2 separate regions of the Homo sapiens genome follow, and region 1 is linked to region 2. Evidence: fine-mapped expression QTL. Tissue or cell type: prefrontal cortex. Region 2 holds a variant in brackets; the other region holds the start of a gene. All regions are shown on one strand. Distances are from middle to middle. Region 1 holds the start of LINC02668 (long intergenic non-protein coding RNA 2668). Region 2 overlaps LINC02668 (long intergenic non-protein coding RNA 2668).

Evidence for each region.
Region 1: it holds the start of LINC02668, and the variant in region 2 is fine-mapped to the expression of LINC02668 in prefrontal cortex (BrainSeq, PIP 0.95).

What each region holds. Positions count from the first base shown.
Region 1 is chr10:3,252,144-3,268,769 of GRCh38, reverse strand. LINC02668 (long intergenic non-protein coding RNA 2668) reads left to right here and starts at 11,251. Exons shown (of 3, transcript NR_187504.1): 1 at 11,251-11,626; 2 at 12,213-12,310. It overlaps LOC105376353 (mucin-5AC-like), which reads right to left. Exons shown (of 3, transcript NR_164119.1): 3 at 15,416-16,626. RefSeq lists a silencer at 5,757-5,922.
Region 2 is chr10:3,232,498-3,249,123 of GRCh38, reverse strand. LINC02668 (long intergenic non-protein coding RNA 2668) reads left to right here. Exons shown (of 3, transcript NR_187504.1): 3 at 16,542-16,626. It overlaps LOC105376353 (mucin-5AC-like), which reads right to left and starts at 110. Exons shown (of 3, transcript NR_164119.1): 1 at 1-110. RefSeq lists enhancers at 1-384, 11,816-12,315. The variant T/G (reference allele first, on the strand shown) is at 8,610.

The sequences.
Region 1 (16,626 bases), 20 kb before region 2:
GTTTTTTGGAAGGGTTCATCTAGGTCTCAAGGTAGAGCCCTATTAAAGAGATCAGCGTCTTTATGAAAGAGCCTCAAGAGAGCTCCCTCTCCCTTTCCACCCTGTGGACACAGCAGGAAGGTGCCATCTATGAACCAGGAAGTAGATCCTCGCAAGACCCTGATCCTGCCTGCACACTTGGACTTCCAGCCTCCAGGACCCTGAGACACGGGTGTCTGTTGTTTTCCAGCCAGGCAGTTTGTGGGACATTGTTACAGCAGCTGAAATGGACTGGGACTGTGTACCTCTGCATTTATCTAGGAAGCTCCTATGCGTGTATTCTGATACCAGAACACATGTGTGTTTATTTTTAGTGCTTTTGCAACTTAGACCAGATTAATTCATTCCTTCCACACACACGTTTCCTGCCTACTACATGCCAGGCACTGGGCAGAATGCAGGGCATGGGTCTTGACCCATTTCACATCAGGAGCTCTCCCATGACCCCAGGCCTCTGAGCATTAAGTCAGTGCAGACGGAATGGAATTGCTGACTTTGCATCTGCACTCACTTGCACTATTCCCCCACTTAGACCTGTTGAATATGGAGGGTAAGGAATGACTGTGGCATGGTCCTGTCCCAACCTGACGAGAAGCTTGGGTCTGTCTGAAGCCCAGTGTCCCCGATCAGGCCAAGACAAAAGGCAACCCGGTTATCAGGGATGTGAGGTGACATGAACTGACGGGTAATTCAGGAATACCAATCTGTCCTGAGAAATAACACCCAGCTCAGGAATTTGGACCGGAAATCTATTACCCCACCTTACCAAATTGCCTTTGAAGTATATATGTTTCATTTTATTTTTTGAAACAGAATCTCACTCTGTCGCCCAGGCTGGAGTGCAGTGGCACGATCTCAGCTCACTGCAACCTCCTCCTCCCGGGTTCAAGCAATTCTCCTTTCCTAGCCTCCTGAGTAGCTGGGACTACAGGCGCACACTGCCATGACCGGCTAATTTTTTGTATTTTAGTAGAGACATGGTTTCGCCGTGTTGCCCAGGCTGGTCGCAAATCCTGAGCTCAGGCAATCTGCCTGCTTTGGCCTACCAAAGTGCCGGGATTACAGGCGTGAGCCACCATGCCTGGCCTTGAAGTATATTTTAATACAACAAAAATGTTTCTACTTTTACAAAACGTCAGGATCCAAAGTTTAAGCCCTCACCTTAAATAAGGGAAGGAAAGCCTTCGAGTCACAGGATCTCAAGATCAGCCAGGTGGCATGCAGGCACAGAGTGTTATTGAGATAAAAGAGATTGAACAGAAGTAAAGAGAGCAGTTACGTGAGTGGACCACCCGCCCGGAGAGGGAGGCCAAGGAGGCCAAGGGAGGGAGGCCTGAGAGCCGCAGAGGAAAGTGGAGGAGACTTCAGTGTCACCCACAGGACTCAGGCTCTCTTTTCAGGAACTTTTAACTGATCAGCTTTTATGCAGATAAATGAGGCCATCTTTCCTGTCCACCCCACCACCACCACCACCACCACAACCAAAAGCATTTCCACTACACTCTCCACATATACATGGTATCAAAAATCCCATTTATTCACTTTTATAACAATATACATGAACAAAAAGACACATTTTAGAACCTAATGGCTTAGGACATCAAGACCTTTTTTTTATTATTTTTCCTAGAGTGAAAAGTATTTATATATTCATGATACTGGAAATGTATTTATTGAGTATACATTTTAAGAAGAAACCACACTTAGACAACCACTGATTGCTTAATTATATTTATAGAACAATCTAAATGACACAAGCTTTGGAAATTTAAAAATAATAACATAACTTGGAAAAATCAGGAGAGAGAGGAAGAAGAAAATGAAGAATGAGTCCATTTGCTAAGTTCCTCATATCTCATACAACAGTAGATAAAGTTGATAAATTTCAAAATGTTATTTTAAGTGAATTATTTAAATTCACAAAGTAACCCCTGGATGAATAAAAGAAAAATAAGAAAGCTATTAAAAAGCAAGAGACTTGGATGGTGCGGTGGCTCAGTCCTGTTGTCCTGGCGCATAAGGACGGGAGGCCAGACGTTTGAGACCAGCCTGGGCAACATAGGAAGCCTTCATCTATACAACAACAACAAAAGAACAAGAGGTTTGCTTAGCACCTGGTAGGTAAGTCTACTGGATTATTAATTCTTCTAAACGAGCATCAGCAGACACCAAGTAAGGCTGGGCAATCGAGAAGCAGACACAGAAATTGTTAAAAGTGTTTTTTCCAGGGCATGAGACTAGGAATCATGGGAGGCTTTTCATCAGAGAAACTTCTAAATGATATAAGTGTTGGAAGTTTAAACACAGTCACATAACTGAGAAAAATCAGGAGATACAGAGGGGCAGAAAAGCATCAGGTTTAAAAGATTATCCCATACACATGTGTTAGTCCTGTGATATAAAGAAATACAGACATAAATAATTATGGTATATTAGTAATAATACTTGTGGCCAGACACAGTGGCTCACATCGGTAATCTCAGCACTTTGGGAGACCAAGACAGGCAGATTGCTTGAGTTCAGGAGTTCGTAACCAGCCTGGGCAACTGGCGAGACCCACCCACCCCGCTGCCTCCATCTCTACAAAAAATACAAAATATTAGCTGGGTGTGGTGCCACATGCCTGTGGTCCCAGCTACTTGGGAGGCTGAGGTGGGAGGATTGCTTGAGCTCCGGGAGTTGATTGAGGCTGCAGTGAGCTATGGTCCTGCCACCGCACTTCATCCTGGGTGAAAGAATGAGTCCCTGTCTGAAAAATAAAAGTAAATTAAATAAAATTAAAATTAAATTAAAAGTATGAATAGAGAAAAGTGTTCAAGATATATTTTATTGATAATTTTTTACTGTGGTAAAATATGTACTTCATAAGATGTGCTAAGTTAACCATTTTTAAGTGGACAATTCAGAGGTATGACATCCATTCACATTGTGCGACCGTGACTACCATCCCTCCACAGAACTCTGCATCTTCCCAAACTGAAACCCTGTGTCCACTAAATAAAACTCCCCATTCCTCCATTCCCTCCCCCTGGCAACACCATTCATTCTACTTTCTGTCTCTGTGATTTTGACTGCCCTAAGCACCTCCTCTAACTAGAACCATAAGTCAGTGCACTTCTGAGACTGGCTTGTTTCTCTTAGCAAAATGTCCCCAAGGTCGTCCGTGTGGCAGCATGTGCCAGAATTTCCTTCCTCTTTAAGGCTGCATAATATTGTATAGTATGGATAGACCACATTTTGTTTATCCATTCATCTCTTGGTGGACAAGTGCATCTTTATACTCAGATAAACACACAGAATGCAATGAGTGTTTCCATGGGGACACAGGTCAACTCACAGTGTCCAGTGGCAACTCAGAAGCCATCTGGTCTACCGTCTCTGCAGCAGCCCTCGTCTGACCATCTGACCCTTCATTTGCTACCCCTCCCACATTGTCACCCCTGAAATGTTCATGGACTTGCTGGCCTACCTTCAATGGCCACCCCCACTGCCACCCCTCAGGTATGAGTCACAGGGGCACTTCTTTGTTCACCGCAGCCCCAGTAATGACAGCTGTTCATGGCATGCAGTAGGAATTTGATAAATACTGTTGAGTGCATGAATGAATACTTGCGATGGTTACACTGGGACCAAAAAAAAAAAATCAAGAAACGGAATGAAATGGATGATGACTTTTCACTTTTAATTCTATGAAGTTTGATTTTTGAAATCTATACCAAGTATTATATTCTAATTTGAAAAGTTTAAAAATAATGACCTGGAAGTAAATAACCCCTAATCCGAAAGGTGAGCTGTAGTCGGTAGGGTCTTCCATGTACTCAGGCTCACAAAGGAGAGAGATGGTGGCTTAAGGAGTCCCCAGCTGTGCCCCCAAATCTCCTCTCAAAAATATGTGTAGCCCAGGCTGCACCCAGCCCTGAAACCAGCCCAAGGCTCTCCTTTCCTCTGCTGTCAGAAGGAGGGACGCCTAGGGTCAGGAGGGGCTTGCTGTGGCACCTCCCACACACCCCCATGGCCAGCTGACCCCAGTGCGCTGAGGCTTTCAGGACTTTGCTGAGTGTGTGACCACGGGCAGCTGCGAATGACCCTGCGGAGGGGATGGTGCCAGCCGTGTGGCCGGCAAGCAGCAGGCTGTGGTGGCAGGTAGGAACTTCCTTCTGCTCAGGGAATTGCTGCTGGTATCAACACAGCCCGAAAGAAATATGCTGTATGTCATTAACTTAGGTCTGTTTCAATTACATTCCATCAGAAAACTGACTCTGCCTTTTTGTGGAGAACTTGACTTTACGGGTTGGCTCTGCTGGGAACAGGTTTGTAGAGGAAGGGCTGAAACACGAAACAAAGAGAAGGTTCTGAGAAAGGCCAGGACGATATCCTGTTGTTGTTCAGTGATTCCCTAAACAGAACACTTTGTGAGGGCCCTGCTGGAGGCCCAGGGTGGCTGTTCCTAACAATACCAGCAGCCAGAGGAAGCTGTTAGATGAGTGGGTCAGGAGGAGGCGGTGGCACTGCCCAGGAGTCATTTCTGGGTCGTGTGTGGTGGCCACAATTTGCAAAACAGGAAGGAGAAGAAGAAAAAATGATTGGCAAGTGGCAAAAGGAAGGCAAAAGTCGCACTCTGCTCCCTGAAAGGCAGCAGAATTAAATGGCCAGCAGGACCAAGCAACATCCATGTGGTGAAGGAACCAACCTGAAAGACAAACAGAAAGAAACGCTGGCAGGTGGGGAGTTAGGGGAGTCCGTGAAGGGCATGGCACTCACCAGGAACCAGCGCAACGCCCCCTGCAGCCTGATCTTCCTGGCACCGAAGCACACGGCCTGGGAGCTTGTGGAAGACACAACATTCCGATTCAGTAGCTCCTGAGAGTCTGTGTTTCCAACAAACTCTCACTGCTGCCGGCCTGGGGACCACACTTAGAGACTAAGAATTGCGTTTGCTGCTTCTCCCACCTTCCGCACGGTGGGTCCACCCAGGGAGCTTTAACAACTGCCAATGCTGGGGCCCCAGCTTCTCCACTTGTGATCTAACCGGTCTGGGGTATGGGCTGGGCTTCAGAATGTTTTAAAGCTCCCCAGGTGACACTAATGCTCAGCAGTTTGAGAAGCACTGATGTGGATGAAACGATAATAAGTAACCAGTGGCAATGTGGAGAATTTCAGCCAAGCAATACCCTCATAGACTCCTAAAAAGCCTGAATCCTGGATAAACTTTCAAATCACAGAAGCACATCTTTGTGTTTCTTCTTCATTGGAACAGGTGATAACTGTGCAAATAAAACCAGTTGCCTCCCAAACTGCTCTGAGTCTAAAATAGGACCAAAGAGAAAGAAGTTTTCAGAAAACAAGATGGCCAGTGCATCAGGAGTGAGTTCATCTGGACAGGAAGAGAAACTCACAGTGTCTCCTCTCCTAGGGTGTCCATCATCAGCTCCACCTCTTCCTGAGGCCACCTCCACCTCACCACTTACGTCAGCTCTTCCAGTTCCTGAGCTCAGCTGAACTACCTAATTCGGGGATCTTGAATATCAGCTAGAATTTTGCTGGGTTGAATGTAACAAACAGGAAAAATCCATGACTTATAGGAGATTGAAGGGTATCTCCCCCACACAGCTACGAGACTGGAGGTGGTAGGGCTGGGCTGGGGTGATGGCTTCCCGGGCATCAGGGTCCCAGACTCCTTCATTTCATCTCACTCACTGCTCTGCCTCATGGTAAAAAATGGCTGCCCAGGTGCCAGCCAGCACTTCCGCACAGCAGCCAGGAGGACGAGCAGGGGGCAGCTTTTACGCTCTCCTTTAAGGCAGTCCTGTCCATTGGTCAGAATTTAGTCCTGTGCCCTTCCTAGCTGTGAGGAGGATTGCAAAGTGTTGTACTTGCCAAGACAGAAGTCCCAAGCTACAAAGTTGGAGAAAGAAGAATTCATACTACAAAGAATCCAGTAGTCTTCAACAAGTCCTCTTTTACTTACCCTATTTGACTTCCTACATCTCTTCTCTAACCAGTAATTCACACGAGCCAGGTACTATGCCAAGCCCTTCATACCCACTGTTGCGTTTAGTCCTCATGCAACCTCATGAGGGAAAATTTTCAGAATCCAAATGGAGTTCCCTGTGTTAAAACCCTGACACGCTGGGGAAGGCCATGGAGGGAGGGCTCTCATGAGTGAGGCATTGCAACTTTTCACAAAAAACCACTTCTGCCAGGACATCTGCCAGCAACTGCCTGTCCAGCCTCAGACAGGCATCACCCTTGTTATTGATCCTTGTGGCCCAGGATAATTATCTCAAAACAATTCTGCAATCCTCATTTTCTTAAAAAAAATTATCTCTTTTTACTTCTCTGGATAAGCAATTAGTTTACCATGGCACACACATGCCCATCTTAATGCCTACGCCCGAATAAACACCATTGTCCTTTAGATAGTTTCCTTCTTTGTTATTTAGGTTGACAGAGGTCAGCTTCATTTAGACAACTTGCCAAGGTTACCCAGCTTAGTTTAGGTAACTTGCCAAGGTTACCCAGCTAGCAGCTGATGTAATTAAGGTTTGAACCCTGGTATGTCTCACTCCAAAGCTATTAACAACTCCGACGTTTCCGGCATGGGTTTGATAAACAGACCCAGAACCTCACAGTAGAGGCTTCTAAGCCAATTCATTCATAAGTGCCTGAGCCCCGCCCCTGGAGAAGCCAGATCTGCACATCACAACTGTGGGCTCCTGCACTGCAAAGGCTACCGACTGTACTTTAGTTTTGCTTTGCCTCTTCCTCCTCTTCCTTCTCCTTCTTCTAAGAAAATATTCCAGGAGCTTCCAGAGTTGTGTGGTGCAGCAAAGCTCTAACTTCTCTCCTGAACTTTGATTTCTTATAAGCTTAATAGAGCCGGGTATTCAAGTCATAGCGCCTTGGCTAAAGAAGCATTACTGAATTGTTCCCATTGGCTTGTGAAATTCTTTATATAAAATATGAGCTTGTTTCCTTATTCCTTGTCTCCATAAACAGAAGTCAGTGAGCCCACACCAACATCCCTTTAATGATTTCAGATGATCCAGTACCTTGCCTTGTCATTCCCAATATAAATCTCATCAACCTTTAAATTACATGTGGAGCGGGAGTCTACACCATAAACACCAACCTGGGGAAATACATTCGACATGATTTCTTACAGCAGCCCCTAACACGACCTGTTTTCCCTGAGGTTGAGCTCTGCTTCCTAAATATGCAACAAGCAGGCAAAAATCAGGCTAATGGATCATTCTGATCCGTTGAGTTATGGTTTATTTGAAGAAATGTTCATTTCCTCAGGTCCCTTAGAGCACATACGAGTTTCACACTTGCTGAAGGTGAGTTTCTCGACATCACTAGTCCTGTGGCTTCCCATGCAGCCAGTGCAAAGGGAAATGTGCAAGAGAGACGCCTTCTTCCAAGTGCTGCTCTTCGCTTTAGACGATTAAAAATCATCTCTCGATAGCCCCTCCACTGCAGAGCATTTTCATACACGTCTTTCCGTCTGCAAACTTTTGTTGGAGAAAAAAAAAAATCTACCTAAGCCAGTCTCCAGGTATTGTGTCTACAGCTGGGTGCATCTGATAAGGAATAAACTTGAGTTATCACCAGGGGCTCTGGAGTCAGCATCTAAGAAATGACATTTGGAGAGAAGATGAAGGATCCCCTGAGCGGACATCCAATGATGGTTATGATAAGGTCCAGGAGCCTCTGTGTGCAGAAATGTTTATGTAAAATCAGATCAAATAAAAGGTCTCTCCCTGGTCCCTCAGCCAAATCATCTTTCACTTAGTGTAGTTAAACAAATATTGCTCCGGCTATATCAGATTTAACCTTTTTAAATGTGCACTGTGAGTTTGTCCAACCTTTGTTTAAAAAGAATAGCACTTTTGAGTTCAGGCCTCTCTGAGGAGTTTTGCTTTCCTGCCAATCTTTAGGAGAGACCTCCGTCCCCTTGTTTAGGTTTGGATGGAGAACCAGGAAGACAGACATAGGTCACTTTACCAGGCTGCCTGAAAAACACCCACAGCACTGAAATAACTCTCACCAAGAGAGACACCAGCGGGGCGGGCTCTAATTTGGAATTGAACCAAAACAAGCCAAAAGGGACCTCAAGAACCATCTGGCCAAGAGCATGGGGTTCGAGGTGGACTTGGCTTCCAGACCCGGCCCTGCTTCATGCTGAATGGGAGGGCTCACAAGACCGGAGGTCTCAGGCTCTCCAGACCCAGCTTTCCTATAGAAAATAGGGAATAGGGATGGTAAAAGTAACCGCCTCGTCTAAGTGGTTGTGAAAATTAAATAGGATCCTGTGTAGGAGGTACTTAGCATGGTGCAGGGAACTGTGTAAGCTTTTGTTAGATTTTCCCTGGCCCCAGACGGCATACGTGGTTAATTTCTGTACCAGGACTAGGAGCCGGTTCTCACTGACGGCCATTCCTCCTCAAGGGGGAGTGTCGCGGGGGCGGAGCAGACAAGGCTGACCATGTCCCCTAGTGCCCTGGGGCCTGCCTCACTTCCCACAAGCATGGCCCTCTGCAGTCTGCTCTCAGGCGCATGAGGCCTCACTGTGCCCAGACCACATCTCCAAATTCAACCCCTTCCACTGCATTCTGCTGAGCCGGAGTTTAGTCACAGAAATGCCAAGTCCCGGAGCAGTGGTGTTGCCATCCTAAAGTGGGGGTGTTGTGCTTTTTGGGTGTGCCATGCCCCTTCCTTAAGGCCTGTAGTTACACTGCTTTCAGCTACTGGGACCCCCTGGGCCAGCCGTCCACCCTCCCTCCAGGTGTCTGTTTAAATGGCATTTTCTCAGACATCCCAGTACAGATTAGAACTTGTTACACACCCGTACAGCACCTCGTGATTTTCTCTTCAACACAGCATTATGAACTTGGATGGTTTCATTTCTCTCTCTTTTTTAGAGACAAGGTCTCTAAAGAATCATCTCCGAAAACACACTCAAGGTTTGCAGGGCACAGCAAGGAAGTGTCAAAAGAAACACATTGCCGAAGCACGATAGCGCCACTCAGGTCTTTCTGGAAGGACCTAAAATGGACACGCTCTCTCTTCCCCCCTCCCAAGAGCTGATGACGCTGTTGAAAACCTAATAAGAGAGGAAAGACCCAGGTGGAAATGCTCCCTGCTTCCCCGCTCTGGGCGACCCCAGGGCTGGGGTGAGAGGGGACACACCCACCGCTTGTGTAAGAATCCCCCATGATTTCTGACACCTGGTTGCTAAAAAATCACATCATTCTGCAGGCAGTCAGTGAAGGACGCTATCTGAGCCTCTTGCTAACCCAGCTACATAGCTTGGGATCCAGTCGGTCCGTTTTGTCTTGGCTAAGAGCACAGCCATTTCGCTAGCACTCGATAACATGGGGTCTCTAGGACTCCATTAAAATCTTAGGGACTTCACACCAGGATAAAGTACACTCTCTTGTCATTTTCCATTTTCTAGGAAGACTTCTATAGTTCGATTTTTTTTTTTTTTTTGAGACAGAGTCTCATTCTGTAGCCCAGGCTCGAGTGCAGTGGCACCATCTTGGCTCACTGCAAGCTCTGCTTCTCGGGTTCATGCTATTCTCCTGCCTCAGCCTCCCAAGTAGCTGGGACTACAGGCACCCACCACCACTCCCGGCTAATTTTTTTGTATTTTTTTTTAGTAGAGACGGGGTTTCACCGTGTTAGCCAGGATGGTCTCGATCTCCTGACCTTGTGATCCGCCCACCTCGGCCTCCCAAAGTGCTGTGATTACAGGCGTGAGCCACCACGCTGGTCTATAGTTACATTTTTAAAAACACAATCGCTGAAAGCAAACATGGCCAGGAGACTTAGGGTGAATCTCCGTTAATCACTGAACGGGAAGAGCTAGCTTACAGAAGTTAGGAGCTAAAACAGAACTTGGGAGGACCACACCAACGAAAGGGACAGAGGGAGGACTATAGTCTGATGAGGATGCTGGTGTCCACGGCTCCTCTGCACGGTTGGTGTTATTTCTCACTGGTAGACTCTGATAAGCTGAAGGATGTCCTGCCCTGTGATGCCGGAAATGCCTGGAGGCTGAGAACCCCTCCAGTGTATATGTGGATGCTCAGAACAAGACGTCACCGGTTTTTCCTCGATTCCTTCCCAAGAGCTGCTATCACTGGGAGAAAAATGTACATCTTTAGGCCCAGCCCACTGGGTGCCTGCATTTTTCCAGCAGCCCTCGAGTCCTGTGGTGTTGCTAGTTATTTTAATTGAGTGACACACAAGGTGGGTATGAATGAATTTTACAGCCAATTAGGGCTAAGCATGGATTGTACAGGAAAGAGAGTCTTTTTAGTGCAAATTTATGGTCCACTCAAGACACATAACTTATGACAGGACTAGTAACCGCAGCTGAGCAGGCTTCTTTCCGGAGCCTCTTGTCCTCTAAACGGGTTTTTCTGGACACTTGCAGTAGGTAAGGAGGCTGTCGACTATGGAACTGAGCGAAGACAGGTTCGGGGCTCACCCTTACCGATCCGCTCCGCAAACCTCGGGAATCCCTCTGCCTCTCTGTTCTGTTGTTCTTACCTAAACAATAAGCTATCGGCCTCAGCTGTCTCCGGGAAACTTTGAACTCTAAGAGGGCAGGTTTTACTTGTTCTCCTCGAAATGCATTTCAGACTGGGAGTGGAGTGTGGGAGCGGGAACATTAAGTTAGAGCAGGCTGCAAACCCTCCACCTGGAAATGTGTCTGCACTGCTGTCACCAGCCTGTCTGGGTCTCGGCTCTGTCCTTCCCTTGGTGTGTCCTGGGGTAGGCGTTGAATGAGAAAACCATGGTTGCAGAGGCAACACATCCTTTCCTTGAACAGTGTGCACTTGAGGAACGAATTAAGACCCGTAAACAAGGATGAAAGCCCCCGCCCCGCAGACTTCAGCTCCTCCTCCATGAAGGACGCCGCCTGGGAGGTGAGTCCAGGCCGGGCCAGGGAGGGCCTCCTGTGGGAAGGTGCATTTTCACCTTACAGCCGGGAAGTAGACAGCTGCGTCACAGTTTCACTCATGCCGGTCTCTTCCTGTGCACATTCAATGTTAACATTATTCTGGCAAAAGCCTTGCTGCAGATAGTCTCTCCGGTCCCTCCTACATCTCTTTCCAGAAGACAGTTTAAAAGGACACATTTCATCACCTCTCAGAAGGGGTTAACATCACAGAATTCCAAGTCTGAGGGTGGAGCCCTGATCCTGAGAAGGTTTTGTTGAGTTCGGGACAGTATTTCTTTACCCATCCTTCATGAAGATAAAAAATGAGGCAAAATAGACACTAAAATGGTCTCTGACATCTCCTCATGCCACCAGACAAGGAGTAACCATGGTAACAAGAAGCCTAGAAAAATTGGGGAATGAGGAAGACCAGGAATGAGAGCTCCCCTCAGCCCTGGGGGGACCTGAGTGTCCACAGCTGAGCCTTCTCTGCTTCCCTTTTCTCTTCTGGATTCTGATGGAGGATATTTTCATCTTCCTCCCAAAATCATCAGAAAGCATAAGGACATATATAAACCGCTTTGCAAAAAGAGAGTGTATGGAATAAAAGAGAAAATGAAGAAGAGGAGAAAGGTAAGATACTCCTTACACACACACAAGACTAAAGGAATAACCTGGGCTTTGAAAAGAGCATTAAAAGTTTGTTTAATAAAATAGTCTTTGCTGCAAGAGCTTCTAAAGAGATCAGATATAAAAACCAAATCACTGGGATCTTTTCAAAGAAGGGACTCCCATCGTGCCCGTGAGGAGGTTGTCAGTTCCCCCAACAGTCCAGGAAAGATCCCCTGCGGCCCAGTGGCTCTGCTCACCCTGAGGCCATCCTGTTTGAGAGATTTGCTTCACCTGGGCTGGGAGGAAGAGGAAAGCTTTTCTGGAGAGCAAGCTCAGGAAACCCACCCTTCCCGAGTGCCTCCAAGGCCCCAGGAGCCTGGCAGTCCTGGCCTGGTCTCTCCACAGGCCGCAGCCTCCCTTGCTTTGCCCTCTTTGGTTTGAAAGTTTCTCAGTATACGTGTGGATTTCCACATAGCTTGGAGGTTTCTCATATGTCCTGTATGTATGTATGTTCCACCAAATCTGAACATTGTGTGTTTGGGGGGGGTTGTGTGTTTTCTGTTTTGTTTTGCCTTTTTTGAGATGGGGTTGTGCTCTGTTCACCCAGGCTGGAGTGCAATGGTGTGATCTCAGCTCACTGCAGCCTCAACCTCCCTGGCTCAGGTGATTCTCCCACCTCAGCTTCCTGATTAACTGGGATTACAGGTATGTGCCACAATGCCCAGCTACTTTTTTGTAGTTTTAGTAGAGACAGGGTTTTTGCTACATTGCCTTGGTTGGTCTCAAACTCCTGGACTCAAGCAATCTGCCCACCTTGGCCTCCCAAAGTGCTGAGATTACAGGTGTGAGCCACCACACCCGGTCCAAATCTGAACATTAAAGGCATGTATGTGTGTACATTAAATGTATGTCTATTCATTTGAAATGTATGCTTAATTAAATCTGAGACTGTGGACTAATCTATAAAACCAAGTCATTCAAAGTGAGGGCTAGACCCGGGATGACTGTCTACAGACAGAGCTGTATCAGACTGGGAGGACCAACAGTAGATGCTTAGGATCAAAATTCTACAGTCACATCTGTTTTAATTCCTAAAACCATTGTCAACTGGGCTTTAAAATAAGACCTACAAAATGCTATAAACTGCAATCTACTTGAGTCTATTTTAGTAGCAAGGAGAGGCACTTCAGGTTGAAGGAATGGGTTTGCTCCTCAGGATACCTCATTGAAAAGGGCATCAACTCGAAGCCAGAGGCTAAGTTGGAGGAAACAGTTCCCTGGGACTCTGGAAAGCCGCAAGCAGTAGATTCAGGCTCTCCTGGCTGTGGACTCAGCTCCCTCCCACTGTGTTCCTACCCAAGTCTCAGCTTAAGAAAACAGAAAACATTATGTTTATAAGCTTTCCTCTAAATACAAGCAAATGCATTGTGTATTTGTTTCCTGAATGGTTCAGTAAGGTCTGCACATCTAGAGATTTTTTTTTTTTTTTGAGACAGGGTCTTACTCTGTCACCCGGGCTGGAGTGCAGTGGCGCTATCTCAACTCACTGCAACCTCTGCCTCCCTGGTTCAAGTGATTCTCCTGCCTCAGCCTCCTGAGTAGCTGGGACTACAGGTGCCCATCATCATGCCCAGCTAATTTTAGTATTTTTAGTAGAGATGGGGTTTTACTGTGTTGGTCAGGCTGGTCGTGAACTCCTGACCTCAGGTGATCCACCCGCCTTGGCCTCCCAAAGTGCTGGGATTACAGGCTAGAGCCACTGCTCCTGGCCCCCGGTCATTTTTGCCACAAACATTGAGCTCAGATTTGGCTGGGCCCCGCCTCTCACAGATGAGGGAAACAGCAATTTTGCATGTCTCTGCTCTAAATTTCGTGACCACCAGAAGCTGGATGGAAGTAGACTGCACCTGGGCCTGTCTGCAAAGTCAGGTCTCTTTTGTAAATATTTTGTATCCCTTGGCTAATTACACAAAGCATTAGTCTGATCTCACAGTGTGGGAGGTCTGTGACTTTGCTGACTCTTGATGCCAGCCCATAGGCAGACTGGAACATTTCAAAATCATTTTTTAAAAGTTCGTGAGAGTAAAATATAATGAAAATTGTTCCTAAAAAACAAAACTGTAAAATAGCTGTTGACTCTTTTAAAAAATAACAGAAGTAGCTCAAGATTCTAAAAACAGCAGAGGAGATTGTTCTGTGTAACCAGCAATGAGCAGGCAGGCTGTAGTGATGATCGACATCTGTGTTTGCAAGAGCCAAAGGGTGCCGCTCTTTTACGGGTCTTGGAAATAAATCTTCGGTATGTAGATAGCTAAGAGCTGACCATTGTGTCTCCATTTCAAATTGTGTCCTTTTAATGTGGAAGAGGATTTATGAACTTTATTATCAACATGTAGCTTGTTGAAAATCAAATTTTTGTTTATTTCAGGAAAGCAGAAGTACTCAAATTATTTTATTAGACTTGATGAAAAATGGGCTGGTTGTGCTCAGAGACTTTGATTCTGATTCTAGCTCTCTAACCTTCAGCACTTCTCTGCTATTTCTCTTTTAGGTTATATTTTTAAATGAAAAAATAAGCAAAATCCTCTGCAGTGTTGAAAAAAAGTTGAAGAGCTTGGTCCATGGGTAGATTAATAGATAGGAAGATGATGGACCAACAGATGGATGAGTGGGTGGGTGGGTGAGTGGAGGGGCGGATGGGGGAATAGGTGGATGGTTGGATAGGTGGGTAGATGGGGGGATGGATTGATAGATGGATAGGTGGATGGGAGGGTAGGTGTGTGGATAAGTGGGTGGATGAGTGGAGGGGTGGATGGGGGAATAGGTGGATGGTTGGATAGGTGGGTAGGTGGGTGGATGGAATGATAGATGGATAGGTGGATGGGTGGGTAGATGTGTGGATGAGTGGGTGGATGAGTGGAGGGGCGGATGGGGGAATAGATGGATGGTTGGATAGGTGCGCAGATGGGTGGATGGATTGATAGATGGATAGGTGGATGGGTGGGTAAGTGTGTAGATGAGTGGGTGGATGAGTGGAGGGGTGGATGGGGGAATAGGTGGATGGTTGGATAGGTGGGTAGATGAGTGGATGGATTGATAGATGGATAGGTAGATGGGTGGGTAGGTGTGTGGATGAGTGGGTGGATGAGTGGAGGGGCGGATGGGGGAATAGATGGATGGTTGGATAGGTGGGTAGATGGGTGGACGGATTGATAGATGGATAGGTGGATGGGTGGGTAGATGTCTGGATGAGTGGGTGGATGAGTGGAGGGGCGGATTTACCCCTACCATTCACTCTCACTCTACAGCATGATGTTGTGTTCATAAGGAAAGAGACCAGCAACTCTTAAATGAGAAGTTACAAGTCTTCCATATCAGGTGAATCCCAAATGTTAAAGCGATTTTCCCAAATTATCAACTGATACAAATATGAAATCAGATCACAAACTCTCCTTAAAATAACTTTAAAAGAAAAGAATACACTACAGGTATTGTTAACCAAGTTGTCATTCATGTGAAAATATTTTTTGGCTGAAAGATCATGGTGCATGTAAAAGCATCATTACCTTAGGTTCACTATTTTAGACACTACTATTTTTAATAAAGGTTGATAAACATTCTTACTGTGATGGGAAAATTTGTTCAGTCATATGTACATTTTGGTTAAACCTCTCTTAATCTATCGGCTAAGATTTCCAAGTGCAGAATGACTGAGCTCAGCCTGAGGAGCGGTGAGGGTACTTTCAGTGGAAATGCACAGAAAAACTGTTTTTGAAGGAAGATTTTGAGGACAGAATTCCAACAATAATGTTGAATATAAGAAAGGTCTAAATTTATTTAGCACAAATAGAATTGTACACATTAAAAAATTTGCATTTTTCAAGATAATTTTCAGACTTTGCAAACAACTATATTTTAAAAGTGAGTAACACCAAATCAGACTAATGAAGAGATGTAATTGGGCTACATAGATGGAGATTTCCAATATACAAGAGAGGAAGGGGGAAGGTTGGTGATAGACCACTCTTTTCTATGTCTTTCACTATTTTCCATATTTCTTTCTTTAAATACACTGCACAGGAGTATAGAAAAAAGTGAAAATACAGGTTGACAAACAGGAGTTCATTATTTAGAAGAAACATAAGATTTAAACTCTGGTAGTTCATTACCATCAATGTAGTTTGTATGCCCAGGAGACATAACATGTAGGGATTTGAAGTGATATATTTTGTGAGCTTTTGTAGCTATCTGTAAAAATAGAATTTCAGAGTTTATACACATTTAAACTTGAACGAAACAAGGATTTAACTATTATTATTAAAGATGAGATCTAACTCCCAAGTGGAACTTAGAAACACAAACCGTTGGCAACTCCAGCGTTGTGCAGGTGACTTCCGTGCAGTGGGGATTGCATATGCTGGGCGACGCAAGGGAAACTGCACTGTTCCTGCAGTGTGTGCTGTGCTGTAGATGTGGGAATCTGCACTGTTCCTGCAGTGGGTGCTGCACTGTAGATGTGGGAATCTGCACTGTCCCTCAGTGGGTGCTGTGCTGTAGATGAGGGAATCTGCGCTGTTCCTGCAGTGGGTGCCGTACTGTAGATGTGGGAATCTGCACTGTTCCTGCAGTGGGTGCCGTACTGTAGATGTGGGAATCTGTGCTGTTCCTGCAGTGGGTGCTGTGCTGTAGATGTGGGAATCTGCACTGTCCCTCAGTGGGTGCTGTGCTGTAGATGAGGGAATCTGCGCTGTTCCTGCAGTGGGTGCCGTACTGTAGATGTGGGAATCTGTACTGTTCCTGCAGTGGGTGCCGTACTGTAGATGTGGGAATCTGTGCTGTTCCTGCAGTGGGTGCTGTGCTGTAGATGTGGGAATCTGCACTGTCCCTCAGTGGGTGCTGTGCTGTAGATGAGGGAATCTGCGCTGTTCCTGCAGTGGGTGCCGTACTGTAGATGTGGGAATCTGCACTGTTCCTGCAGTGGGTGCCGTACTGTAGATGTGGGAATCTGTGCTGTTCCTGCA
Region 2 (16,626 bases):
ACTCTCCTTGGTTTCTACGAAAATGACCAGACATCCATGCTGATGACAGAGCAGAAACCACAGCAAAGTGAGCTGAGTCACCGACTCCATTAACTACTCTCCAGATTGTTACTTACTCACAGGGAAAAAAAAAAAAATCAGGGAGAACAAATCTTTGCAAACTGCCCTAATCCCAGGCTTGTGTCAAGCAAATATATTGTGGAATGAGTTCTTTCTTAAAGTAAGAATAGATTTACAGCACATGATTGGGGTGAAATACTGAAAAAATACAATTTAACCTCATAAAGGGAAAGCAGTAAAAAGCTTAGAGGTCTTCATTCACCAACGCAGCAGCTCAGAGGCATGAAACCTAATAGAGGAAATTGAATCTAATATTCACTTTCTCCCGTGCCTGACTTCCTTCTAGCCTCTGTATTATTCATTCCATCTTTTTAAGAATGGAAACAGCACAGGCCTGTATGTTTCCTGCTAGGAAAATGCTTACTGGACGGATACAAATGTTGGCTCTGTTTTACTACTAAAAACACTACTTATATTAAAAATATTTTTTAAAATACAGAAAAGGAAGGAAGAAAGAATGGGAGGGAGAGAGGGAGGAATGGGAGGAAGGAAGGAATGTATTTGATGGAAAAAAATCTCATTTTCCCACTTGACATTTTAAAAGGTGATTCAAATAAATATAAATCTTAATAAATATTTTTAATTTTTTTTTTTTACAAAATCTGTGACTCAATTTCTTCTTCTTCTTCTTTTTTTTTTTTTTTTCCAGTTGGAGTCTCACTCTGTAGCCCAAGCTGCAGTGCAGTGGTGCGATCTTGGCTCACTGCAACTTTCACCTCTGGGGCTCAAGCGACTTTCCTGCCTCAGCCTCCCAAGTAGCTGAGACTACAGGTGCATGCCACCACACCCAGTTCATTGTTTTGTATTTTTAGTAGAGACGGGATTTCATCATGTTACCCTGGGTGGTCTGGAACTACTGAGCTCAGGCGATCCACCCACCTCAGCCTCCCAAAGTACTGTGATTACAGGTGTGAGCCACCACACCCGGCCTCTTCTTATTTTTACAGGAAAAAAAAATCCAGATGTGGGAGCCTCTGTCTATGTTGCTTGGAATATATTGCAGTACAGTAGTGGCTATGATAGCCTTTTAATAGATTTTTACACCATGATCGAGCCCGTACACACACACGGAAAAGTTTAGGAGACCATGCATCATTATGTGCATTGCATTGAAATATTTTTTTTTCCAGTTCCTTCCTTCTTTTCTTCTTCCTCAGTGCTTGCTTGTAGAGGCTCAGTACATTAATTTCATGAGCCAAATGGGTCCTAATCCAAAATTTGAAAAACCCTGCTAAGAGAATGACGCTGCAGCTACTGTAGCCTATTAACCAGCAAGAAGGTCCTGGGCCCCTGACATGACGGTCTGGTGTAATCTTGACTGGACCAGGAATACTTAGTTCATGTGGGGAAGGGACAGGAAATGAAAGCTTTGGTAACTTCAGAAGCTCAACCCATCATTGAATTGCTACTGACCCAGGAATGGATCTTTATTGAGGTTGTCAGTTGGTCGCTAGACTCCCTGGAAAGGCTCAAGGTAGAAATGAACTGTTTCAAACCAAGCAAGGCTGAAAAATAGGCCTTTAAAATCCAGACAACATGGGTCCTGAGACAGCTAGTGTCTGCGTGGCTTTTCCCGGCCCCCATGTCCACCCTATCTGATGTTGACAATCCCGCAGTTTCACTGCCACCGTCATCGACAAATCTTTGCCTTGTTTGCATGAAGTTTGGAAATTAGTCCTTATTTTACTTCAGAAAAACCACATCAGCGCATGGAGATGGTTCGTCTTGCACTGAGGCTCTCACGAGCCTTACTGCCTGCGAAGACTCTGACTCCAGAAGCGGTTCTCCATCCGTAATGGAAAGTCGACATAGAGGCCAGGGGAGGCGAGGCAGGGCTGGAGCCATGGACCTCACCTTTGAGGACCAAGAATGTCTTTCAGTGAGGAGAGGGGCCCACTCACACAGCCTGCCTGCCAAATCGCAGAACTCTGTAGGACACAGGTGTGAACATGAGAGTACTTTTCTAAACTCTTGACTGCTGTGCTCCCCCTTTTGATCAAGAGTCAAAAGAAAAACAATTTGCTATGTTTTGCATCTTCTATGACTGGGCAAAGTACATGGAGGTTGACATGAACAGTGTCATGTTTAGGTCCCTGAGAACTGAGACCAGAACAAACAAAGGCTTTTAGCTTTCGTGAGAGCCCTATCCAGTGTTCATTTTAATAACAGCGATCTCAGAAGTAAACTGTCACTTTATAAAAGCGATTGTCCATCATTCGGTTACCTGGGGCTCATCCAGACCCAAAGGCTTTGGGATGGCCAAAGCCAGAAGCACCCCCCGGTCCTGTGTGGTCACCATGGCTGAGGCCAAAACAAAAAGGTCATCAGCTTCTATTTCTCATCTAGGCATCGGTCTTCTGAACTTTATTTATTGAATTTACTAGACATCCAGATGAACAATAAAACTCTCTTTTACATTTGAAAGGTCAAATCAAGATTAAGTGAGTTAGAGGAGCATTAAAGAATATCCCTGCAACTGCTCACGAAGTACTGGTGTTGTTTAGGGTTTGTTCTCTGTGCATGGAGACTCAGCTGGTCACACAGGAAACTTTGTATATTCTTAAGTCAATGCATTCATTAAAAATAACGAAGCTATTATCTATTTCCATCATGCTCTGATTGTACTTTACAGTATTACATTGCCACTCCTAATTTCTCTTGTCTTAGGGCTTTAATATGTGAGCCTCTCCTCTGAGGGTAAAACCTCCAGCAGAGGAGGGAGACGGCTTTGCTGTCTCTCACTCCCCCAGTGTATAGCACTGGGCTGTCCACAGACCAGCTTCCAGGATATGTTCAATAGGTTTATAAATGTCTTCAAAAGGAAGGGGTTGTATATTCCTAACTCCTTCACAAACTATTTGAATCTCTTCATCCGATATCACGTAAATTTCTAGAACCTAAATAAAATGAATGCTCAAGGAAATAGTAGCTCTCAGTGCTTACTTTCTGGGGAACATCAGCTTTTATGAATGAATGCACCTCGAAAACCAAAACTCCAGCACAGAAATGGCCTCTGCAAGCTCAAGACTGTTAGATGCCAGTCCACCGAGGTTGAAATATTGGCAAACATTAACGGCAATATTAATTTAGCAATGAGAATAGAAGAAAGCCAATCGGCCAATTCGCTTGGCCAGGCCCTTCATTTCCACTCATTATGCTGAGGAGCTGTCAGAGCCCGGGACCAAGGGGCTGTGGATGTCCAGCCATCTTCTCCTCTTGCCCTTAGCGTTTCCTCATAACTCACTCCCAGGAAGCCAGCGCACATTTATTTACCAGGCTCCTTGGGACACCATATGCAGTCACTCCTGGACTCCTGTTCATGGCAACAAGAAGGGCCCCAGCAAATCAGAAAGCTGCTCACCCACGCTGCACGGGGCTTGCTGATGTCCCAAGTTCCTCTCTTGAGGCTCCGCGGTTCTCATGTTGGGGCTGACCCTCTCACACTCGCCATCCCTGGGGCCAGGCCCCAGCTTCCCCCATTCAAGCATCAACTCCAGGCAGGCGAAGGACACCCGGCTCCCAGCAATCCTGGTGCTGCGGTATTTAGTCCCTCCCTTCTCCTTGGCCTTGATCATTGCCTTGGCCACCCTGTACGTTGGGTGACCCCATCTGTCTAACACAATCTCGCCAGTGCCTTCTGATTAGATCTCAGCTTCCTCACATGACTTGGGGCTCCAGGGTTTGGGAGGCGCTGGGCTTTCCCTTGGTTTTCACATTACACAGTGACTGATGAGAAATTCCCTGCTCCAATCTAAGAATCCCAGTCCCAATGCCCACGGGAGGAGGGAGGAGCATAGCCCCATCACCCAGTGGGCTGCTACTAGTGAGTAAGGCATTTAGGCATAGACAGTGCCTTTAAAGACTGAATGTTGGGGTTTGAAGGAGCCAGTCAACCCATGGGAACACCTGTCCCCTGAAACAAGGAGGGGAACACGTTTATAAACAGGTTTTCAGCACCCATTCCAGTTGAACATGGGAACACCTGGTATATCCGAGGCTGGCTCTATAACACCTGGTACATCTGAGGCTGGCTCTGTAGCACCCAACACTACCAAAGCTAAAAGTCCGTCTTCTTCAAAGGAGCAGGGATAAGAATTAGGTCAGCTCGTGCAAAAGCTTTGCAAAGCTCAGTGATTGCGAATGACCATGTTCTGAGCATCAGCACACAAGACAAAAAGGTTTAGAAAACATTCTGGTGTCTCTACGTCCTTAGAGACCAGCACTCCATCGGGATTCTTTTGGGGGAAGATTTTATCATGGAAGTTGGGGAGCACATTATTGACTTGACAGCAGATTAAGGCTATGAAGAAAATGTGCTAAAATAAACAAATTTGTGCCCTGCAGTAATGGTGAAATTGCCGGTAATCGCTAAGTAAAAACCACTGAAGAACAGGACAGAAGCCAATGACCACCTCACCTCCACCGAGTGCCCTGCAGGTAATGACATACCCAAAACCAAGAGAGGGAACAGCTTTGATTGATGGACACAAAAGGAAGTCACAACAAATATGTGTGAATATAAAACCTAGGAAGATCTTTCTTTCTTAGACAAAGAAAGATGATTAACCCGGGAGCCCTGTCCTGTGTGTTATTTGAAGAGGCTTTTGTTAAATCCCCAAGGCAGCTTTGTGGACTCCTCAGCACACCACACTTAGGAAATAGGAGAGCGGGGTGGTGAGGAGCTGTGTGATCTCCTGGGAATCCCTCCTTCTTGGGCTGGGATCCCCTCATTCGCCAAAGGGGGATGCCACAACCTTACAACCTGAGAGGGGCTTCAGGGCACCCTCTGGCTTTTACCTGTGAGAAAGGATATTGTACGTTTTCAAAGGCCAGAACTTATCCTACTCCAAAAGCTGTCTCGCATGAAAAAGTGTGAAAATTTGCACAACCAACAACAAGGGATAGCACATTTAATCCACACAAGGTGGGGTGTGGCCCGGGCCCAAAGTGCCATTCAGCATCAGATCTGGAGCATGTTTCGGGACGGACCCATGGCTGGCACCCATCATGCCAGGGAAACGTAAGCCATTGAAGCTAAAGTGTTATGGGTCTAAGTATCAAGATGTTTGGCATTGTGTGTACAAAAACATCGATAATTGGGATGTACGTTTCCGTTTTCATTCAAAATATTATCAGTGGGCCCAGGTGTACTCTATGACCTTAAGAAATTATCTCATTTCCTAACTTTCATTTTCATATATTTCCTTCTTAGCTTACTAACTTTAAAAGATGCCCATTCTCTCCGTCAATCACTGTAACCTGTAGGCAACTTAGGAATTTTTTCAGCTTCTTGAGACTCTGGGGCCACCAGGGATGAAACCATTTGCACTTTTATTGGTTCACATAATGGCATTGGGAGGGGAGACAGGGAATACCTGTGAAGTCACAGAAGTATTTAACCTGTGCTCCTAGTATGACTGTATTAAACATAATAGTAATACGTATGTATTTTCAAAACCTTAAGATGATGCTCTCTGCTGTTTGCTATTTATTGTTATTATTTTTTGAGACGGAGTCTCACTCTGTCGCCAGGCTGGAGTACAGTGGTGCGATCTCACTGCAACCTCTGCCTCCCAGGTTCAAGTGATTCCCCCGCCTCAGCCTCCTGAGCAGCTGGGATTACAGGAGCGCCAGCACGCCTGGCTCATTTGTTTGCCGTTTTAAAGCTTACCACATTCACTTATTTTTCACTGATGTTTATACTTAGCGATGAGGAAGAAAGCTCAGGTGACTTGGCTTCCTCAGGGGAAGGTCTTCACGGAAGGTTTCCAGAAGACACCTGTCGGTGAGATGCCAGCTGCTCAAGACCCTGCAGAAAGCCCTGTCCCAAAACCCCCTGGAGTGCCCAGTGCTGGTGGGAAGGTCACGGGGGCGTGTTTTCCCAGAGAGACAATAACTTGAGACTCACTGTTGAAGTCACCCGTACCCACTCCATTAGAATGCAGAACCCGCCCCATTAGAATGCAGAACCCGCCCCATTAGAATGCAGAACCCCCCCGCCCCCACCCCCCACCCCGGCAGCTCTTTCTGCTCAGGGTAAGGCTGAAACTGATGGGCAGACAGCCAGGAAGCGTTCTGAGCTTTGGGTTCAAAAATGAGATTCAGGGCATGCGATGGGGTCCAGGTGGCAAAGGACCCCTCCCACACGCCCGGGTCACTCCTAGCATCGTGCTGGCAGCACCGACCCACCAGCCCCTCCTCCTCCTCGATCTCCCCGCCTTGGCCTGCCTCTCTCCATCTCATACACAACACACAAACCACACATACACACCCCACACACACACAGACTCACACACCACACACACCACATATGCACACACACATTCACACAGACACACACAATCACACACCACACAGACACACACATTTCACACACACACTCATACCACACATACCACACACAGTGTATATGCGTGCACACACACACACTGCTGCACACACCACACATACCACATATGCACACACACCCATTCACAGAGACACATACACACAGACACACACACACCACACAGACACATACACACCATGCACAAACACACAACACATACATATACTACGAAGACACACACACAGAGACACACCACACACACAGTACACATGCACATTACACAGACACATAAACACACACCACACATAGAACACACAGTGACACACCACATACACTTACACAGACACACCACACATGTGCACAGACACACACACATTCACACACACAGACACACACACTGCAGGTGTCCTTCACACTAAGCCTCCCTGTGTTCACTGAATGTCGGGTGGGAGGAATGCATCGAGCAGGGAGAGGGTCCCTTGACGAGGGTGGCTCTGGGTTGTGTCGCGCCCAACACCTGCAGGTCTCTCCCTTTCTTTCCTCTTCCAAGGTAACCAGCGTGTTGTTTTGTCTCTTTCCCCTACACGGCCAGACATGGCTTGCAGAGCAGGGGCTGTTCCATGAACCCCTGACTCTTCCTCACACTGATCTGTGTGTGTGCATCTGCACATGTGTGTGAATGTGTGTCGCATGTGTACACTGTTGTGTGTACACGGGCGCTTGTACGTGTGCCTGTGTGCGTGCATGCATGTGAGCCTGTGTACCAAGTCTCCCGTGCAGATGCCTGAGGTTAGTGGCTGAGTACGTGGAACTTGGAGCTCTTACAAGTACTTTGAATATGAAAAGACAAATTCGTGCAATAGAGGAGCATGAGTCCTTTGCAGCTCCCTAACCGTCCATTTCATGTCAATGCTGATGTTCGTGACTGTGCGGTGCGTTGACAGAATGACAGAGTCGGTGCCTCCCCGCACTGTGGTCCCGCAGCACGATTTTATTCAGCGTGCACACATGTGGGCTGCCGGAGTCTTTAGAGTAAACAGGAGCTCACGGAGACCTGGCTGCTCCCAGGAGCACTCGAGACAGCCTCCCATGACATAATATCGTTACCGTGGCAACAGGGATATTCACTACCAGAATCACAACTATATTTCACCAATTTAGTGCTCTACTAAACACAAAATAATGCCTTCTTTAATGATGCTGGGCTGTGGTTCTTAGAAACACGGAGCCCCCTGGAGCGGGAGCCCAACTGCAGAATAAAAGTGCAGAAGGAAGGCCCCACTTGTGTGGAGAGGCGCTGCGGTCTCCCGGCATGAGAAGCTGGCACGGTTATGTGTCATGGTTCTCCATAAGAACTTTTGCAGCAAATGGCACCCACACGCCTTGGTGGCAACTCTTCCAGCCTGGGATGAGATCGGCAGAGCCTGGGTCTGAGAACTGCAGCCAGCGACTCGCTGGGCTGTTCCATGTTCCAGGCAGCTCCGAATCATCTTTTTTTTCTTGAGACAGAGTTTCTCTCTTGTTATTCAGGCTGGAGTGCAGTGGTGCCATCTCAGCTCACCACAACCTCTGCCTCCCGGGTTCAAGCGATTCTCCTGCCTCAAGCCTCCCAAGTAGCTGGGATTACAGGCATGCACCACCACGCCCGGCTAATTTTGTATTTTTAGTAGAGACGGGTTTCTCCATGTTGGTCAGGCTGGTCTCGAACTCTCGACCTCAGGTGATCCACCTGCCTTGGCCTCCCAAAGTGCTGGGATTACAGGCATGAACCACTGTGCCAGACCCGAATCATCGTTTCTGCACATGGAGAAAACCACGTGGAGAAAACCGGCAGGAGAAGAGCATGGGGCAGGGTCTGTAGGAAATGCTCAGAGAGCTTCCTGGAGGCAGGGCTGGGGAAGGCACAGGGGAGCCCGGCTTCTGCGGACGTTTCCTCCCAGGATGAGGGAGGCAGGGCTGCTGGAAGACTCACCTTTCCTCTCACTGCACTGCCATTTGTCCCAACTCATTTCCGTTCTATGTTGATTGGTTCAGAAAACATCCTATTTGGCAAATCCTAAATAGTCTCACTTTCTGTCATGGTCGTGGAATCTCTCCGTCTCGACAATGGAACCGAATTGTAAAGCGACTCTAGCTCTGAATTCCTACCTCTTGCCTTTTG[T/G]TTTTTTCCTAGAAAAAGGAAATGGAAATCCTTCCTGTTATTCTCCGCGTCCCTTCGTAGAAGGCTGCCTGAGAGGTCAGCACAGGAGTCCTCTAAGTGCCCTGCAGAGAACACGGGTCTCGGAGCCGGACAAACCTAAATTTTGAAACCCACTTTGAGTTTGAACTTGGCTGTGGGAAAGTTACACAATCGCTCTAAGCCTCTGTTTTCTCATCAGTAAAACAGAGAGGGGTTGCTTGTGTGAGAAGTGGCCGCTGCCAATCATCTGCGTGTCCTTCACTCTCCCAGGGGCCATGGGTCTGTATTCTACACATGTGGGATCTTCCTCTGGACCCTTCGGACATGGTCCACACGCTGCCCTCAGGATCTGCTGGGGTCTGCATGGGGGGTGAGACGTGAACCCCAACCACGTTCACCACAGAGAGGAAACTGGGGGGATGGAGGGGGGGACAAGGCCAGGTCACCTTCAGGTGCCGCCCGCCAGCAAGGCGGTTTGCACCCGGCTGAATGAGCTTTAAAAAAGACAGTTTTTTCTGTAGTTTAGAATCATGGTTTCACTAAATGGTGAAATAATTTTATGCCACTTCCCCTACTAATTACCATCTCATTGTTATTAGAAAGGATGGTTTCCTTGAAGTCTAGAAAATTTTGTTCCAGTCCATTTCAACGGTGCAGGAGAAACGTGGCTTCCATTCCGAGGAAGACGGCGACACCTAGTGACCGTTCCCTCGCGGTGCGATGGCCTCACACCTGTGCGGCGGGTCGTCCGGGGCGTAGGGTGCTGCGGCCTTGCGGTCTTCCCTGCGCTGCAAGGCAGGGCATGGTGGCAGATTAACACCTGGATGAACACGGGCAGGTCAGGAGACAAATAAAACCCAGAGGTCTTTGAAACTTCAAAATCCCGTAGGGTGTGTGACCCCAGTGAGCCCCACGCTACATCCAGCGAGAACCGAGAAGTGATGGTGCAGACATTCTTGGGTCCCCCAGACAGAACACACCGGGAGTTACTGCCTCTTTCTCATCCCGAGTCCTCCTGACTTTCCCCAGCACCCATCGTGGCTGCAGCCAGGACACAGGTAAATGTAATTTCCCTCCCCTTCCATCCTCGCTTTCACATCGGTGTGATTGACTGAGGGCCTGCAGACTCTCTCCACGTGCGGGTGCCCTGCAGCCTGACACACAAATGCGTTCATCCTTCCCCTTTATCCTGACCCCGAACTAATGACGCAGCTTCCTGAGACACAGAGGATGCTTCTCCTCGTCCCCCCTCGCGCTCTGAAGTGGGAAAAGATGTGTTCCATCTGTTCTGGAATTTTCACTGTAAAGAAGAGAATGAATTTTAACTGTGTTTTTGACATATCCCTAAACAAGAAGTGGTTTATAGAGTGAAACCATTTTCCCTTCATCTAAAATTTAAAAAAAAAAAAAAAGAGAGAGAAAAGTGCAAGACTGAAGATGTGTGTTGAGCGGGGTGAGGAAGCGTGGGGGACTCGGCGCTGGAGGAGCCCCGGGTGTGTTTAGGGTTTGTGGTCAGGGGCCCTGGGCACCAGGTCCAGTCTGAAGCACCCGGGGGGATGGACGATGTTTGTGTAAGAGAGGGACAAAGGGATGGCAGGGTGGCCAAGCAGAGACGCGATTCCCTCTGTGCCCTTCCTGGACCAGCTTTGTATTCTAACAGCAACGTCTCTGTTCTTGGGAAGAGCTCCTCGGTGATTACCTGCCCGCCCCTTGTCTCCTCTTATTCCCGCTGCCACAGGGCAGGGCCGCCCAGCTCCAGCTCAGACACACACCTGCTCCAACTGCTGTGCTGGTCACAGGCCCAGAGCACCACGTGTCCTCTGGGGTCTGTGTGGTCGGCGCCGTGCGTGGGACCACTGTGAGTGACCCTCCTCTTGTGTCACAGAGCCACTGTACCCGTGTGCACCTGTGCTCTGAGACCTGGATACCCCTGGAAGGACAGACACCGAGGACCCGAGTGCACTGGAGTCCCGCTCCCACAGATCCTGCTGCTGGGAGAACTGTCAGCCAGGAACGGGACTGCGGTGGGGAATTCCTTCTGTCAACACACTTTCTAATCTAAGCTCCAGACTCCACTTCCAGACTAGCACAGGCTTTTTCCCCCACATCTCCTTCTCTGCAGCCGGGGCTCCTGCCGGGTCTGCGGAGCCCAGAGCCATGCTCTCTGCCGACTCCATCTCCAGATGCCTGCCCCGGCACCCACGCTGTTGCCAGGACACCAGTGAACCCAGACAGGGTGAGCAGGTTGCAGCAGGGTACCGGGAGGAATGCCCGGCTGGCCCATGTCTTGAAATCAGTCTCATTGAACAATCCGGGAAAGAGATGACCTAGCCTATTCTAAGGCTATCGATGTGAATTGGATTCTTCCATTTCCCCTGAATTCTCTGATTAAAATGATAATTATGCAATAGCTGTTTTCCATTTTAAAAGCTGAGTATGACTTCCCTACTTGGTGGAAGGCTGTCTGCCCAGAAAATGTTGCTATTTAATGCTTTCTGAAAAAGCGTTATCTGTATTGTATGCATAGAATCCACTTGTTGCCACAATGCCCCCTCCTAAAAATTATCGCTCGGGCAGAGACGCAGCTGGCTGGATCTGGTTCTGCCCCCACCTGGTCCCTGGGTCCCCTCTGAGGCCTGCGTCACCTGCTCTGCGCAGACTTCTGCCACCTCTGGATGGAGGCCATAGCCATCATTGCACAGAAGTGCACCTGCGCGCAGTGGAGTGACTAACGCCCGGCTAAAATGTCCAGGAGGCGGGGGCCAGTGGCCTGGGCAGACCCGCACTGGCTGGCCGCACCTGCCTGGTTTGTCATCACTGGTTTGTGAATAGGCTGGAAATGCAGAGAAAATCCAGACACTACACCAACAGGAAAACGAAGTCTCCTCAGCCTCCCATCACACAGCCACCCACAGTGCCAGGACGGGCTTGAGGTGTTTCTCCTGCTGCTTTAAAATAGATATAGATAGATGTCAGGCCGTTCCATTCGTAGCCATAGCTCACCCCTGGGTCTGGCTGTCGAAAACCTGTTTCACTATGGAGAAATGGGGCAAAAATACAAGTTATACATAGTCATTTTCAAGCGCACATTATATATATTCTGAAACATCAATAGGATTTCCACCCAGTTCAGGACACTTACCTTAAATGTACTTCAGCCTGCAGCCTGGGTAGTGTCATTTTGTGAAAAGGATGATATGCTATAAATAACTGTCCGTCAGACCTAGAAGTGGGATGGCTCATGAATAATGCATGAGCTGTGCACAGCAGCGCTGCCCTTTGAATCAGAGAACATGTTTTTCCCTATCTCCAGAGGGAGAAAGCCCTCTTCCAGCCCCTTTTTAAATTCTTCACTTGGAATGAACCTGACTCCTTCTTGGAAAATCCAACCCCAAATCAACACTCAAGTCCTTGTGTTTTCTTCTCCCCACTTTGAACAAAGGGTGGCTGTGGGTTTGAGGGTCTGAGTCTCTCCTCTTTGCCAAGGCTGCACAGCTGTAGCCCCCACTCCATCCACCTCCAGGCGCCCGAATCCATGCCAACAATTGAAGAACACGCGAGTGACCCTGCTACCGCAGGAGTGTGTTGCAGCCAGGGCTGATGGGGAGCAAATGCAATAACCCTATCTCTGCCGGACTTGCACCTGCTGCCGTCCAGCTTGGTCAGGCAACTCCCACGCAGGAGCCGGGTGACAGGCCTGGAGGGTGGCCTTGCTGGGCCTGGACACCAGCACACGCTCGAGGCAGAGCAGCAGGTCAACCTGCCATTGCCAAAGGCCTGTTGCTCTCCTGCTCCGCCAGCCAAGGCCTGGAAGGGAAGGAAGGAAGAAACAGGGCCCGAGTGCCCTGGCTGGGATAATACCAGGACAAAGGAAGGGGACGGAGAACGGCCTCTGCCTCTGGAAGGGAAAGTGATGGGGTCAGGAAGGAGGAGATGGTCCCAGAGCCAGATTGGAACCCGCCAATGCCAGGAACCAGCAAATAATTGTTGAACAAATGAATGAATGAGTTGATTGTTCTAAAACTTTTGATAGTCTTGGAATGGGGACAGTCCAAAGCTATAGGGTCTCATGGGATCATTCATTCTTTCATCACACGGCTGTGGAGGACGAGGCTCTGTGCCTCTCATCTAGTGGTGGATTTAGAGGAGTTATGAGTCACAAATGGGGCATCCGTTTACGATCTTCTATGGCCCATTAAGGGATTCCCATTCACCACTTAAGCCGCAGGACAGGGATATCGCGTTCCTTTTCATTCTCCGATCACTCACTCACCCACCGAGAACTGTGCTGAGCCCACCCCGTGCTCACAGGACGTGGGGCCCACAGTGAAGGGACGGGGAGGTGAAGTCAGGGAAAGAGGAAAAAGACGGATCCATTAGACACAGGACGTGGCACGGGATTGTTTAGGAAACTGCCATCTTCCTGAAAATATATATTGTCTTTTGATGACTCCCTTCTTAGGGACAAGTCAAATTAACTGAAGAAACTTCTTTTCCCCTTCCCCAAATTTTTGTTGCTACCGTGCAGATATGGATTTAGATGATAAATATCATATATAAAGAGGCCACGAGACTTCTGCTCACTTCCTATCTGCCGTGTCCCTGGCCCTGTGCAAATAAAACCTCTGGCGTCTGCATCTACCTCAGAGCCTGCTGCTGCCACCATTGAGAGATGGAGAAGCAGGAGAGTGTCTGGGGAGTCAGGCGAACCCCAAAGACAACCCACAGACTCTATTCACACAGGAGCTCGAGTGTGGGGAGGCCAGCAAGCCGCCTCCCTGGCCACAAAATCTCAGTCATGAAGGTAAAGGCCAACTACATTTTAATGCAATATGTTTTTAAAAACCAAAGTTAGTACAAAAACCCATGACAGACAAAATATCACAATTTTAAAGACAGAATTGCTGATACTGGATTTTTTTTTTATCCTATGTCTCCAATATGGCTCAGCACGGCACCGGGCCATTGTGTCTAATCTCGATATTAACTTGGCGTGATTTTTTTTCTTTTTTTTTTTTTCACTCTGTCGCCCAGGCTGGAGTGCAATGGCGTGGTCTTGGCTCACTGCAACCCCCACCTCCCAGGTTCACGACATTCTCCTGTCTCAGCCTCCCAAGTAGCTGGGACTACAGGTGCCCGCCACCACGTCCGGCTAATTTTTTTGTATTTTTAATAGAGATGGGGTTTCACTGTGTTAGCCAGGATGGTCTCGAACTCCTGACCTTGTGATCCACCTGCCTCGGCCTCCCAAAGTGCTGGGATTACGGGCGTGAGCCACCGTGCCCGACCAACTTGGCGTGATTTTCTTTGCATTCACGTGGATGTTTTAGGAGAGCCGCGGCACCCTCTGCCCCTCACTGTCCTCATCATCCACCAGTTCTCCACTCGGTGCCAGGTCCCCAGCTGGCATGCGTGACACCACTGCAACATGCTCAGTGGCCCCTGAACCTCCTCCAGGAGACGCCCACACTGGGTTGTAACTCCCTATGCAACATCGGCTTCCACCACTCGACGGTCGGCACAGAACCTGGTCCTCAACCACCCCTGAATACATAAACGATCCTATGAATCAATCCATCCATGAATCAATCCCCCAAGCGTGATCATCCAGACGGGATGCAAAAGATCCCGGTCCTGTTCTCCTTTCCCTTCCGCTTAATACCTTCGGCTTCCTCCTTTTCATACTCCAGCCTCCTGCCTCCTGACCCACACACACCCCACCCCTAAGCCAGCAAAGCCAACGGGTCCAGGGGTGACCTGCCGGTGAAGAGCGACAGAGCAGAGGCACCTCCTAGGGACTGGGGCTCAGACGACCTGGCTCTGGGTAAGACGTTACTCTAAACACGTTTCATGGTTTGTGTTTCTGCTTATATAAAATAGTCATCGGTAGGATTGCCAAGAGCCCAGTTACATTGAATTTTAGATAAATAATAAATAATATTTTAGTATAAGTATATCCCAAATATTGCATGGGATATACTTATAGCACAAAAAAAATCATGTGTGATTTATCTGAGATTCACATTTAACTGGGTAACCTGTATTTTTATTTGCTAAGTCTGGCAGCTCCATCACTGATGTGCCGTTTTAAAACTTCAGACATCACTTTGGCAACAGCATGGTGACCTCATCTCAACCCCCAGCTGTGCCTTCGAGTCTTATTCAAAACGGCATCTTTTTAAACTCCTGGAAGGACCAAGTCTCATGATTTTTTAATACATGATATTTGTCATCTAAATCCATATTTGTGCAGTAGCCACAAAAATTGGAGGAAGATCACAGCTGTAATCCCAGCACTTTGGGAGGCCAAGGCAGGTAGATCACAAGGTCAGGAGTTTGAGACCAGCCTGGCCAACATGATGAAACCTAGTCTCTACTAAAAATACAGAAATTAGCCAGGCGTGGTGGCAGGTGCCTGTAATCCCAGCTACTCTGGGGGCTGAGGCAGGAGAATCGCTTGAACCAGGGAGTTGGTGGTTGCAGTGAGCCGAGATCGCACCACTGTGCTCCAGCCTGGAGACAGAGCAAGACTCCATCTCAAAAAAAAAAAAAAAAAATGGAGGCAGAAGAAAAGAGGTTCCTTCAGTTCACTCGGCTTGTCTCCAATAAATGTGTCATTAAAAACAACCTAAGTTTTCAGGAAGACTGGGATTTCCTAAACAATTCTATGCCACGTCCCATGTCTTACGGATCCGTCTTTTTCCTCTTCCCCTGACTTTACTTCCCCCATCCCTTAACTGTGGCCCTGACCTCCTATGGGGCACCGGATGTAATCACAGCAGTTCTCAGTGGGTGAGTGAGTAATCAGAGAATGAAAAGGAAGGTGATACCCCTGCCCTGTGGCTAAAGTCATAAATAGGAATCCCTTAATGAGCCACATAAGATCATACAGAGATGTCCCATCAACAAAAGTCCTAGAATGATAATAATAATAAAGTCTTGAAAGATGTATTTTGGGGTAGGATATTAAACACAGAAGGAAATTAACCTGACACCAGGCATGTCAGCCTCGGTTCCCAGACCCTCCAGCACACACATCAGGAGACCCAGGTACAGGCTCATCTGTCTGAGTGACTTTCCAGCCCTGTGCTTGGCCCCTTGTCTGGTTCTGTCCATTGTCTGCCTTCTCTTCCTAAGCCATCCATGCACGTCCTAGACAGACACAATGACGGAGCCAAGGACTCTGTGAACGAGGACAGGACATGTTAGCAAAGTCCTCAGCTGCCTGACACTGTGGTGAGCCCATGGGAGGAAAACCATTGGGCCCCAACCCTAAGGGCCAGTCGTCACTGGGCCACAGAAAGGCACACAGACAGCCATCAGTGGGGCTCCAGGTGCCTGATGAGGAAAGACAGCAACATCTCATGCTTAGGGCATTCCCAGCTCAATGAAATAAAGGCAATATTTTATTTAGCAAAAATTGTCACTATTTGTTGGAATGAGAGTCCCTCCTCAAGGCTCACAAACTGTCTCCAGGAGGATTTGTGCCATGGACTACAGCAGGGAGATTGTTTTATCATTATGATTATGAAGTCCTACCCGGCAAAGTCTGAAAATTTTGGTAGAGAAAGCATAAACCTTCTGTGTCTGTGAAGGAAAATTGTTATTGCTACTGAATATATGAATGCAAAATGCCATAATACAAAGATTTTTAATGCATTTCTGTCATATAGAGGGAGAGTAGAAGCTGCTTGAGTTTATTTAAATATTGTTGACAGAAAACTGCTGTCTTTAGGAGCCTAGCCATGGATTAAGATTCATATATATACACATATATACATGCAAATTAAAATGTTGAAAAAGAGACACTTATCAACATAACCTTTAGAAAACCAAGAGAATCTTGTAGCCTGAGAGCATATTCACAGGAGAAAAGGGAAATTCATGAACACCTCATTTTACTTCCTCCCGTAGGAGCTGGGAGATGGGAACATCACTAGACCACGAGCCGGAATTGCTGCAGGAGGATTCCCACACTCTGGGCCTCCGTGGGCACCAC